Linked DNA regions of Homo sapiens. The protein of the gene in region 2 interacts with the protein of the main gene of each other region in a biochemical or structural test. Each region holds a gene or a part of one and is shown on either strand. Other genes may lie near its edges.

What was found.
Region 1: the proteins of RAB27A (region 2) and MYO5A form a complex in vitro, tested with the Homo sapiens proteins (one study listed by BioGRID).

What each region holds. Positions count from the first base shown.
Region 1 is NC_000015.10:52,315,873-52,322,898, reverse strand, and holds part of MYO5A (unconventional myosin-Va), read left to right. Parts: intron 1-1,389; coding exon 1,390-1,540; intron 1,541-3,556; coding exon 3,557-3,839; intron 3,840-5,676; coding exon 5,677-5,851; intron 5,852-7,026. UniProt on the Homo sapiens protein: Processive actin-based motor that can move in large steps approximating the 36-nm pseudo-repeat of the actin filament. Can hydrolyze ATP in the presence of actin, which is essential for its function as a motor protein. Involved in melanosome transport.
Region 2 is NC_000015.10:55,202,813-55,209,838, reverse strand, and holds the end of RAB27A (ras-related protein Rab-27A), read left to right. Parts: intron 1-4,133; coding exon 4,134-4,332; 3' UTR 4,333-6,873; downstream 6,874-7,026. UniProt on the Homo sapiens protein: Small GTPase which cycles between active GTP-bound and inactive GDP-bound states. In its active state, binds to a variety of effector proteins to regulate homeostasis of late endocytic pathway, including endosomal positioning, maturation and secretion.

The DNA of each region.
Region 1 (7,026 bases), 2.9 Mb from region 2:
CATATGTAACTAACCTGCACATTGTGCACATGTACCCTAAAACTTAAAGTTTAAAAAAAAAAAAGAAAATTTTAATATTAATACTCTTGGACAATAAGAGGACCTTAAAATCCTTTAACTCTAAAAAAAAAAAGGGTGATCAAAAATCATGTCTTTCGATTTGTCCAAAAAAACTCTATTGTTTTTGTTTGTGGGGATATGTTCATTAGTTGTTTGATAGACTTCAAATATTTCAAAACTATGTAGAATATTAATAATGACTATTAAGGGCTGCTTTAGTATGTGTCAGACAGCACTTACTGTATATGGTGTTATTTATGATCATTAATTCTTACAGCATCTCTGTGAGGTAGGAATTATAGTCCAGTTTTACAGATGAGGAAGCCAAGGCTCACTGGGGCTCATTGATTTACCCAAGTTCTCTTGGCCACAAGGAGCAGAGCTGGGATCCTGGGTCTGGCACCGCTGAGGGCCCATGACCCTAGCCAACTGCCCTCCATGCCTCCCATCCCTTTGCCAGGAGGGCAGCAGAGAAGGTGCCCAGCGGCACTTCCTGAGCACTGACAGGCAGATGATGGGAAACACAGAGATGAGCAAGGCCTAGTCCCTGAGAAGATGGGGCCAACAGACCAGAATCCCTCAGAGGGGTCGTTGACTGCATCCTATCAGTCCCCACTTTCGGACCAGTCATTAAGTAGGTGGTAAGGAGGCAGATGCTTGGCTGTAGGGAGAATCCTCAGAGTAAGCACTTGCCTTTATCACGTAGCATCAGGCAAACAACGTGTTAAACTGCAAAGTGACTGGAAGAAGTGCCGCCCATTCAGTTCCATTTTAACAGATACCACCAAAGATTCCCTTCTAACCTCTGACTGAAAACCATGGTGTGGGTACTACGAAATAGAGTAAAGAGAACTTTTTGTATGTATTCACTAGTCTCTGTAGAAATCGGTCTATTTCAAGATTATATATGTCCTTTGGGTGTAGTTTTTAAGAATAGGACTATAAAGAACTGAAGTTAAGAGATAATTTAGATAATTTAGTGTTTGACAGTAAACCTGCTGTTTCAGAAGTGAAACACTCTATTTTTTTTTTTTTTTTTTTTTTTTAGTTAAGTTCCTCCAATTTGCTTCATTGACATTGCTATTGGGAAGACTTAAATGCTAGGTTGCCAAGTTAAGGTATTGTTCAAAAGCTAGTAAGAACTGGAGGGGGTTATGATGGAAGCAAACAAACACACATCAGCATTTGAGAATGTCAGTCCTGGCATTAGTGGGGAAGCTCCTTGGACAGAGCAGAAAAGAGCATGAAGATGCTGATCAAATTGGAGATAGTTAAACTGAAGAGACAGGTTACTTCATGTGTATCATTAACTTTGCCTTATGACTCTAGGGCTTTATGAAGCACAACACATCTCGCCAGAATGAACACTGCCTCACCAATTTTGACCTGGCTGAGTATCGGCAGGTGCTGAGTGACTTGGCCATTCAGATCTACCAGCAGCTCGTGCGGGTGTTAGAGAACATCCTTCAGCCAATGATTGGTAAGGCCAGGGCCCCACTGGGCATTGCAGCCTGCCTATCATTCATGCCCATCGATAAGTAGCCACCAGTGGCACATGTTTCAGGGCAGGTATTCATTTGGGGAGCATAAAGTAGTAAGATACAGGGCTAAAATTAGCCGAGGAATCCCAGAAACCCAGCCATAGTTAACTGGGATACATCGAAATCACTGTTTCCACAAGACTGAAACAGTAGTATATGGTTTCCTTCCCTAATGTTTACTGTTTAAATTCAGTTGAATGCATTGAATTTTAAAAAATTGTCTTAAGTTACCAAACATTGTTATCTTCCAGCAAATTATCAGCAGGCTCCCTTTTTTTTTTTTTTGAGACAGAGTCTCGCTCTGTCGCCCAGGCTGGAGTGCAGTGGCGCGATCTCAGCTCACTGCAAGCTCTGCCTCCCGGGTTCACGCCATTCTCCTGCCTCAGCCTCCCGTGTAGCTGGGACTACAGGTGCCTGCCACCACGCCCAGTTAATTTTTTGCATTTTTAGTAGAGACGGGGTTTCACCGTGTTAGCCAGGATGGTCTCAATCTCCTGACCTTGTGAGCCACTCACCTCGGCCTCCCAAAGTGCTGGGATTACAGGTGTGAGCCCCTGCACCCAGCCTATCAGCAGGCTCTTAAGGCTACTTCCAGCTACACTTTCTTTCCCCATGCATGCATTTTCCATGTTTCCACAACTTCTTCATTTCCCTTCTGTGGGCTCATAGTGTTCCCTTTGCTTTCATAGGCCACAGTTAACTAGCTATTTGAGACATCAAAAGCTGAAGAAGCCATGGGAGATGGCAATGTTTTCTTCAGATGTCCCTTAAAACGTCATTAAAGCACCCTAGGTTGGCAAAAATTTAGGAGGTAACACAGATACCAAGGTCAACTTCAGCCAGTTTTTCTATTGCTTTGCCTGTTTCTATTGGCTGAATAAGAAGTTCGCCTCAAAGAAGCCCCAATCTAAATCCTTACCCCCATCTCCCAGTCATTTAACAGCAACAACAAACATGCCGGTTCTAGGGAATCTGTGTTTAGCACAATTAAATAGCAAGATGAACCAGACGTGGCCTTTGCTCTCAAGGGGCTTGCTGTCAGGGAGTGGACATCTCAGAAACATTCTAAGGGAGGCATAAGCCAAATGCTAAGAGAGCACAACAGGGAAGCAGCCGGGCCACAGGTGAGAAGACGAATTCTGGGAGATGGAGGTCAGCCCAAGGGCCCACTGCTGTTGTGGGAAACCCAGAATAAGGAAGGGCCCAGCTCTCCAGACCCATACCACTCCCCTCTCCCACGTTTTCTCCAAGATGGTTGTCAGTGCCCTGCTTTTCTTACTGTTTTTGCCTCTGGGGCTCAGATAACATGGAGAATGCTTATCTTAACCCGAACTGCTACCTACCACTCTCAAAAGCCCACCCAAGACACACACACTTGTTCTATCACAAGGCTACTGCTTCTTAACGCTTCTTATTTTAGAAAAGACACCATTAAGTTTACTTAGATTCATAGTAAATTTTTGCAATTAAGAATTATTCCTTCAGTAAAGTTTAAAATCCGGAAGCCCTTTTGTAGTGAAGTTCCTTTTCCCTCTATTTTGGCACCCAGATCATTTTTTTCTTTTTTGAAATGGAGTCTCTCTCTGTCACCCAGCCTGGAGCCCAGATATGTGGTCTCAGCTCACTGCAGCCTTTGCCTCCCAAGTTCAAGTGATTGTCCTGCCTCAGCCTTCTGAGTAGCTGGGATTACAGGCACACGCTACCACGCCTGGCTAATTTTTGTATTTTCAATAGAGACGGGGTTTCCTTATGTTGGCCAGGCTGGTCTTGAACTCCTGGCCTCCAGTGATCCACCCACCTCGGCGGCCTCCCAAAGTGCTGGGATTACAGATGTGAGCCACCGTGCCCAGCTAATTTTCCTAAGTTGAATGTGCATGTGTTTGTGCACATGGATATGTGCACATGAAAGGTTCCCTTCCACATCATCTCCTCTAACAATTGAAATACTCCTGCAGTCTCAGGCATGCTGGAACATGAAACGATTCAGGGCGTGTCTGGGGTGAAGCCCACAGGGTTGAGAAAGCGAACCTCCAGTATCGCCGATGAGGGCACCTACACACTGGACTCCATCCTCCGGCAGCTCAACTCCTTCCACTCGGTCATGTGTCAGCATGGCATGGACCCTGAACTGATCAAGCAGGTGGTCAAGCAGATGTTCTACATCATAGGGGCCATCACCCTGAACAACCTTCTCCTGCGGAAGGACATGTGCTCCTGGAGTAAAGGCATGCAGATCAGGTGAGCAAATGCCAACACCTGCGACAGTGTCTTTTTGCTGCCCAGCTGGCCTGCCAGGGTTGTGGAGAGCTGATGACTTGTTTTCAGTTCTTGCATCTCATGTCTGGTGCCATGTGGCCAAGCAGCAAGGGAGAAACTGGCACGGAGCCACTTTCCCTTGCCTGGCTGGATTTCACCACATCTCATTATTGCTCCCTGTCTGTACCCTGCCAACAGGTTCTTCACATTCTTGATAGGAAACCCTTTTCCACTGTGAAGCTTGCTTATTTGGGGGAGTGAAGAGATGATGCAAAAATACACAAAGATGAGATAGCTGCTTCCTCTCCTTATGTGTGTGTTTTAATTATACAATAAGAAATTATTAAATTATAATAATGAAGATTTCTAATGTTTGATTGCTCTTAGAAATATATTTTTGGAAAAATACCTTTTTGTACCTATGGCAACAAGAACAGGTCTGATAGATCTTTTACTAATTCTTAAAATATCCCCCCTCTATATTTTAAGAAAAGCTGCACTTAATTTTATGCCCAATACTCCTCAGCATAACCTCATTATTGTAACATAATTTTTTTGCAAATTTTTTTTTTTTTTTTTTTTTTTGAGATGGAGTTTTGCTCTTGTTGCCCAGGCTGGAGTGCAATGGCGCCATCTCGGCTCACTGCAACCTCTGCCTCCTGGGTTGAAGCAATTCTCCTGCCTCAGCCTCCCAAGTAGCTGGGATTACAGGCATGCACCACCACACCCAGCTAATTTTTGTATTTTTTGTAGAGACAGGGTTTCACCATGTTGGCCAGGATGGTCTCAAACTCCTGACCTCAGGTGATCCACCTGTCTCGGCCTCCCAAAATGCTGGGATTACAGGTGTGAGCCACCGTGCTGGGCCACAAATTTTTTATTTTAAAACAGCTAGAATATTCACCAAGAGGAGGGAAAAATGATTTCTCCTATCAAAGTCTTAGTAGTTACTCAATCTCAGGAACTGTTAGTGTTCTTTTCAAATTTTCCATCCTGACTTACATTGAAGTGTAGTGAATTTTAAGACAATAATGCCTTCCTCTCAGATAGTGGAGCATATTTCTCTATAAGCTCTGCATGGAAATGTGGAGCCACCTGTCGCAATATTATGCTGGCCCCTATTTGCCTGGTTGCTAAGTGCTGATTGTGTGTCTATTGACCTCAGTCTTAGGACTGCTGCCACTTGGTTGGCTATTTTGTGAAACCTACAATGTCTTTGTAGTTTGTCTCTGTCACCATTTGGAGTCTTTGTCTCTTCCAGTGGCCCTCCCTTGCCTCTCTCTCCTTTCATCCCGGAGCTTTCTCAGGCCACCATCTTCATCTCCTAGGCTCTTCCCTTAAGGCTTCAGCACAGGTATATGTGGGGCTTTTGGTTATTCAGTTACCTGATTTGGAGTTTGCCTTAAGAGAGAGTGCTTCAAGGATTATCAAGTCTCACCCTGCAACAGCAACCCAGCTCTGAAATTGTAAGAGAAGCTACAAAGTGTTTTCTGGCCAGCTCCCCAATAAAGACAGAGCTACATTATGTTATTCTATTTTGTTTATTAGCAAGTCTAATAACTTTTGCCATAATGACTTCATTTCCATCTTCCATTAAAGAGAATTACATTATCTTGTCATTTAGTCTTATATAATGGTGATTATAATCCTCATGACTATAATAAATTTTTAAGCACAGCTGATGAGATTTAAGAAAATTGAACAAAAATACTGCCTGTCATTTTAACATAAATCCTGACAAGGCCGCACACAAAAAAATTAAGACATTTTTGACAAAATTCAGCAAATTTGCATTCTCTGTATCTCTTTTTTTTCATAGGTACAATGTCAGTCAACTGGAAGAATGGCTGCGTGACAAGAATCTGATGAATAGTGGGGCTAAAGAAACCCTGGAACCTCTCATTCAGGCTGCTCAACTTTTGCAAGTGAAAAAGAAAACAGATGATGATGCAGAAGCCATTTGTTCTATGTGCAATGCTTTAACTACTGCCCAGGTAGAGCAACTTTCCCTGTTACAAAATAATTTAACATTCATCAAAGATGATCTTTAGGGAAGTAAAGAAGTCCTCTACTTATTGCTTGTATCTCTGAGCTGACTTCATCTGTGTTCAAGAAGATATATGCCTCTACCAATCTTAAAGCAAGGAGATTTTGCCAGAAATTAATACATTTCAGTGCTAATTACAGTATAAATATATTTAATATTCAGCAAATATTTATTGAGTACTTACAGTGTTCTATATAACATTGAAGGCACTGGGATACACCCATAGGCAAAACAAAGTCTCTGCTCTCATGGAGTATACAGTCTATGCAGCTTATATTCCATAAAATAGCTTTCTATCTTATTTGATAATTGAGTGGATTATCAAATAGTGACTTTGTTTTTAGAGACAGATAATTCTTGTTACTTCAACAGATGATTAATTAAGCCTCCATCTCAAGGCACCATATTTATTGCTGGGGAAGATGCTTCAATAAATAAGGAAAAATTCCTGCCTTCAAGGAGCTTACAGTTCAGTAGGGAAGACAGAGTCGTATCCAACTGACTCTACCGTAGAGGTTCTAGCAAATTCTGTAGTAAGATGCCTAAAGGAAGTACTGAGGGAAGATAGCAGTATTCAGGGAAGGTCCCATTAATCTGGGCATTGAATTTAAGGAAGTGGAAGAATGAGAAGGGCATTTGAGGATTATAGTGACAGCATGAAGCAAGGCACAGGCATGAACATGCCCAATTTTCTTTTGCCCGGTTATTTTCTGTGCTGACTCTTAGACTTTCTTTCTTTTTTTTTTTTTTTTTTTTTTTTTGTGACGGAGTCTCGCTGTGTCGCCCAGGTTGGAGTGCAGTGGTATGATCTCCACTCACTGCAAGCTCCCCCTCCCAGGTTCACGCCATTCTCCTGCCTCAGCCTCTGGAGTAGCTGGGACTACAGGCACCTGCCACCACGCCTGGCTAATTTTTTGTATTTTTAGTAAAGATGGGGTTTCACCATGTTAACCAGGATGGTCTCGATCTCCTGACCTCATGATCCACCCGCCTCAGCCTCCCAAAGTGTTGGGATTACAGGCGTGAGCCACAGTGCCCAGCCAACTTTCTTAATGTTCATCATATATCCTACAACATATGAAATTTTCAGTTTTGCCCAATACAATTAAAACTCAATCAGTT
Region 2 (7,026 bases):
CACATATATGTATATATACACACATGTGTGTATATATGTATACATACACACATATGTGTGTATATATGTATATGTACACACATACACATATATATGTGTATATATATGTGTATATATATTAGTGGAAGTTTTCTTAAAAGTTTTATGTAAGTTTTCTTAGGAGAGAGATATATATATATCCCAAAAGATATATAGAGATGTATATCAGATATATCAAAAGGGTATTTGCTCTCTGTACTCCCATGTTTATTGCAGCACTATCCACAAGAGCTAAGATATGCAATCAATCTACCCATCAATGGATGAATGGATAAATAAAATATGGTTTATATATACAATGGAATGTTATTCCACCATAAAAAGAATGAAATCCCATCATTTGCAGCAGCTTGGATGGAACTGGAGATCATTATGTTATGTGAAATAGCCAAACACAGAAAGACAAATGTTGCATGTTCTTACTCATATGTGGGAGCTACAAAGGTGGATCTCATGAAGATAGAGAGTAGATTGGAGAATACCAGAGGCCAGGAAGGGTAGGAGGGAGTGGAGGATGAAGAGAGATTGATTAATAGGTACAAACATATGGTTTGATAGAAGAAATAAGATGTAGTGTTAGAAGGATCAGTAGGGTGACTATAGTTTACAACAATCTATTGTATATCTTGAAATAGCTAGGAGGGAAAAATTCCAATCGTTCTAGTATAAAGAAAAGACAAATATTTAAGATTATGGCAATCCCAAGTATACTTATCTTTACACATTATATCAGTGTATTAAATGATCATATTTACTCTGAAACTATATTATGCATAAATAAAAAATAAAATTTTCTTACAGATACAATTGAAGTCCCTTTTAAAATTCCTTGCTGATTCCATTCTCCTTCCTACCTCCTCAGAGGGAACCACACTATATCTACTTCCTATAGCAGATGTTGTTGGTTGCCTAGACAATATTCATGCCTTTATTTATAGAATCTCAATTTTCTTTAGCTATCTACTCTGCTTCTAGAGGACATGCTACTTAAGAGAGGCAGGTGCCAGCCACCAGCCCAGGAAGACTGATTGGTTTAAGCCAGTGATGGTGGTGTACCATTCCTCTTGCCAGAGTTTGGTTTAGGCATTGGCATGTGATACAGTTTTGACCAATGAGACACGAGGGAAAGTCTTCCAGGGACTTGTGGGAAAGATTTCCTCTCTCCTGAGGGAGGCACACAGAGGAAGAGTCCTTTCTTCCTTGGAACTTCGGTGTGTTGAGATGTGATGCCTGGAATGTTTTAACTTCTGGGGTCATGAAGGGAGTCAGATTGTGGAGAAAGCTGACATGTGGAGGATGGCAGAACAGAAGGATGATATGAATCTAGGCTCTTTGTTTCTACCGTTTGGCAACCGAATTAACACTGGAAACTCTCTAGTTCTGTGTTCATTATGCATTACAATAAATTCCTACTTGTGATTCATGCCAATTTGAGCCACAATTTTCGGTTACTTTTAGCTAAAAGCAGTCAAAATTATATATTTCTAGTCCAAGAAGTTGTACTTTTACTACATAGATGTTTTTATAATGATGTGTAATTGTTGTCTTCACACAAATGATCTTGTATCATACAAGTTGGTTTTTTAATTCAATGTTTAATTTTTGCCATGTTGATACAGTTTAAGCATTGTATAATTCATTGTATAAAAATATCACTATTCATGCGCTTATTGATGGACGTTTAGGTAAATTTTTTCCCTATTACAAATAGTTCTGCAATATCTATTCCATTAGACGATGCCACGTGCACATATGTGAGAGCTTCTCTAGGGCTGCACTATCCAGTGTGATAGCCACTGGTCACATGTAGCTATTTAAGTTAAAATTAAAAGTTCAGGTTTTTTGGCCAGGTGTGGTGGCTCATGCCTGTTATCCCAGCACTTTGGGAGTGGAGGCAGACAGATCACTTGAGGTCAGGAGTTTGAGACCAGCCTGGCCAACATGATAAAATTAGCTGGGAGTGGTGGCCTGTTCCTGTAGTCCCAGCTACTTGGGAGGCTGAGGGACGAGAATCGCTTGAACTTGGGAGGCAGAGGTTGCAATGAGCCAATATCACACCATTACACTCCAGCCTGGGCAACAAAGTGAGACTCCATCTCTAAAAAACAAAACAAAACAAAAACAAAAACAAAAAAGTCGCATTTTTGGTTGCATTAGCCACATTTTAAGTGCTCAATAGCTACATGTGGCTAGTAGTTATTGTACTGGATGATATACATATGGAAAGTTCCTGTCACTGTGGGAAGTTCTATTGGATAGTGCTGCTCCAGCACAGGGTTTCTGAATATTTTTCATAGGATGGCACCTGCAGAAAATGATAATATTTGTACAGCTCACTGGGATAAATAGATAAGGCTGCTCAAGTTTGGAGGAGACTGGTTCAGGGACTCTGGCTGCCCTAAGACCTTCTCAGTTGCCCTAAGGACTGAGGGATTGCTGATGTCTCATGTATCCCTGTAACTCACTTCCTGCCCATCAACATGCCTTGGCTCTGCTTTAGATGTATACCCAGGAGTGCTGTTGCTGGGTCATAGTGCATGCATGTTTCAATTTTATCAGATATTACCGTCTTATTTTCCAAAGTAGTTATTAACAGTTTATACTTACATAAGCAGTAAGTGCAAGTTCCTCTTTTCTTCTCCTTGGCAATACTTAATATTGGGAGATTTCTATATTTTTGCCAATCTGATGGGTGTGAGTTAATATACCATTATTTTAACTTGCATTTCCCTTATTTTGGGTGAGGTTGAACATTTTTTCACAAATGTAATTTCTTAGAATTTCCCGTGCATATCCTTAGTCTGTTTTGTATTATCTTGTTTATTACTTTAATTCATTTGAGGAATTATTTTTTCGGATGCTAACCCGTTTGCAAGTTATATGAAATGCCATGTATTTCGGCCTGTCGCTCATCTTTTAACTTTGCTTATGATATATGTTGTGGCACCAAAGTTTTAAACTTTAACATTGTCAAGATTATCAAACTTATTCTCTGTGGTTTGAGCTTTTATAGCTATATTAAGAAATCCTTTCTTATTCCAATGTCAAAAAGATAAGACTGTTGTATGTTCTTCTAAAAGTTTTCAAGTTTTACTTTTCACTTAGAGGAATTTAAACGGCTTTCATACCAATAATCAAGTTTTAAATTCTTAAAACTAGGCTGGGTGCAGCAGCTCACACCTGTAGTCCCAGCACTTTGGAGGCCAAGGCGGGTGGGTAGCTTGAGCTCAGGAGTTCGAAACCAGCCTGGGCAACATGGTAAAACCCTGTCTCTACAAAAAAATACAATAATTAGCCAGGTGTGGTGGTGTGCGCCTGTGGTCCCAGCTACTTGGAAAGCTGAGGTAGGAGGATCGATGCCTGGGAAGTCGCCTGGGAACTGAGATCGTGCCACTGCACTCCAGCCTGGGTGATAGAGACTCTGTCTCAAAACAAAAAACCCTCCAAAAACTTAAACGAAAAAAGATTTAATTCTGTCTCTGTCTTCCAGAATCCCCTACTTATATCTTTTTATAAATTTTTTACAGTAAATCAGTATGTATTGCCAAAATATATATATGGTCCTTTAAAAAATGAAAATTGATTTTTTTTGAGACAGTCTAACTCTATTGCCCAGGCTGGAGTGCGGTGGCACAATATTGGCTCACTGCAACCTCTGCCTCCCAGGTTCAAGTGATTCTTGAGCCTCAGCCTCCCCAGTAGCTGGGATTACAGGTGTATGCCACCATTCCTGGCTAATTTTTGTATTTTTTGTAGAGATGGGGTTTCCGCATGTTGGCCAGGCTGGTCTTAAACTCCTGACCTCAGGTGATCTGCCCACCTGAGCCTCCCAGAGTGCTGGGAGGTGTGAGCCACTGCGCCCAGCCAAAAATTGATATTTTGAAGAGTCTAAAATTTCCAGTTTTGCATATCTACTGGAAATGCAGTGTGAGTATTTTATTGTCTTTTTAACTTTTTAATGTACTCTGGGGTGGTAAAATGTTTGTCATCTTGTATATTTGTATTCTATCGATTCTCTAATTTGAATTATCAAGAGCAAAGGTCACTCTCCTTTCCCTCCACATGTTGTTACCTCAGTTGTCTCTGTCTTCCAGAATCCCCTACTTTGAAACTAGTGCTGCCAATGGGACAAACATAAGCCAAGCAATTGAGATGCTTCTGGACCTGATAATGAAGCGAATGGAACGGTGTGTGGACAAGTCCTGGATTCCTGAAGGAGTGGTGCGATCAAATGGTCATGCCTCTACGGATCAGTTAAGTGAAGAAAAGGAGAAAGGGGCATGTGGCTGTTGAGAAGTCAAGTAAGCGACATAGTAGTTCAGGTGGCCCATGCCTGGGATCTTCTCTATGATTGATACATGGCACAGTGAGAGATTAATGGGCATTGTGTACAAATTGCTTCTCACCATCCCCATTAGACCTACGAATAAAGCATCCGGTTCTAAAATTAATTTGTTGCAGCTTTGTAAATATTTCTTTAAGATTCAGCCTGAGAGTTAGGAGAAATATTTCAGAGCCAAAAGTGCCTTATACAACCTTAGCCTATTATAGTAAATCATTCAAGGATTCAGAATTTTGCAGTCACAGAAGAGTGTATTTATTATGTAGAATGAATGAGGGTACTGTCACCTGCCTTAATGTAGGTAGGCCCAGAGTCTTACATTTAAGATCTTACATGCAGTTATAAAACCGCCACAGTCTTCAATCCAGATTTGAAGACTCATGCCATAGGTGACATTCTAAAATACCATTAAAGCCACTTAAATGTTAAATAAGAATATACATGCACATCAGCTCAATGTCTTTGAGTATTAATTTTATGTAAGCATTCTATTTAACATGAATATAGGACAAATCATGGCTATATCTATAGACCTTGGATAAACTGGATTGACCAATTATACACTCACGGTGACTTTTTTATTGGTGGGAAGGGGATTGGGGTGGGGCAGGCTGGCTTAATGTAATATGAGCAACCAAAGTGGGACTTCTGTCTCCCCGCTATATTCCCATTGCTCTGAATGGTTGATTGAAGGGTCAGGGAACTAGATTTTATGGCTTTAGTTCACTGTGATTGTACATTTATACTTGGCCTATGTGCTGGCCGCACCTGAACATAGCTGGTGCTTATGCCGAGTTATTTGCGATGAGTAAATATTTAGTTTCTTTTTCTTCATATTTATAATGTTGATCTGGCATCCTCAGGCTGCAGCTTTATTAGCTTATAACTTACTCATCTCTATCTTTACCAGCAGGCTCTGTATTGTTGATATTTGCAACTTGTTTTGCTTTTCCATTGGTGGAATTGAAATAATTAGTTTTTAATTACATAAGATGCCTGTTTGCTATTTGGTGGAAGATAGATGTTCATATTGAAGCAGTCACATTTGTACTGTAGTTCAATAAAAGAAAAATGAAGTATTCTGTAGCCTATATTTTTCATAGAGCTCATGAGCATTTACTGTACTTGCTGGGTCTTGCCAAGATCATTTATTCCGCTGCATTGCCAAAGTGTCTTCATACCAAATTAAAGGTGGTTTTAATATATGTTTCATGGAAGTTGTTTATAAAATTCAAAGGTATTTCATTTAGGTGAAAAGTCTTATTTATTAAAGTGGTTTGAATAAAGTAGATCAAAACTTCCAGAGATCTTAATGGCTATATAGGAAGAAATATCACTCACCATAATTTAAATAAAGAATAAAAATACTTGTATTTTGTGGTGGCAAATGTTTGGTAGAACTGTAATTAGAAAAATACAAGTATATTTGCGTGATGGTTACACTAGAAGCCCAGACTTTACGACTACACAATATATTCATGTATCTAAACTGTACTTGTACCCCCTAAATTTATTTTTAAAAAAGGAAAAATAAAAGTATCATGAAAAAACCTATTTTTTTTTCCACTGTCCTTCCACTACTCCCATAACAAACTTATCCATGGTTGGTAAAATTTTACATATTTCTATCCTTGAAATGAAGGCTTCTTTTAAATTCCAAAGAAGTCATGGAGGCCTGTGCATTTGAATTGTATATGCTAGTGAGGAAAAGATTTAGACATTTCAAGAGCAGGGTTGGCCAGGCGCGGTGGCTCACACCTGTAATCCCAGCACTTTGGGAGGCCGAGGAGGGCGGATCACGAGGTCAGGAGATCGAGACCATCCTGGCTAACACAGTGAAACCCCATCTCTACTAAAAAAAAAAAAAAAAAAAAAATGGGCTGGGCGTGGTGGTGGGCACCTGTAGTCCCAGCTACTCAGGAGGCTGAGGCAGGAGAATGGCGTGAACCTGGGAGGCGGAGCTTGCAGTGAGCCGAGATTGCGCCACTGCACTCCAGCCTGGGCGACAGAGGAGACTCTGTCTCAAAAAAAAAAAAAAAAAAAAAGAGCAGGGTCATAATCACACAGCAGTGCCTTATATAGTTGCCATAAGACTTCAGTGCAGTACAACATAATTTTACAGCTACATATCAGGGCATATTCTATATGGTGTATTTGTGTTAGAATAACACATTAAATGTCTTTAAACATAAAAATAAGAATGTTTGCATGTTTCAGTTTTCAAGAACCAAATGAGTAATTAGCTATAGATTCCACTGGCCTTAAACATACAATTAAGTGTATACATGATATAGTGCACACACAAAAGCCACCTTTAATTATTGAAATAACCTGTATTCTTTTTGGAAATCATTTAAGTTTGGTATTGAAGTACTATATTTTTTGTGCATCAATGTATTTTTCTATTTACAAGCCTATGTAAAAGTGAAGTGTATCTTCAGTGAACCATGTGCCAATTAAGCTGTAATAAAAAAGTGGTCTAGTCTGTCAAATTTGTGTGTGAACGTAACTGTATTTATTATCACAAAGTTTCATACCAGAGGTTGTAATGCCAAAGGAAATGAAATTCAGGGATACACGTTCCATTAGGTGCTCACTGAGGGGCCAGCCAAGACAACATATTCTGGAAAAGTAATTAAAAATGT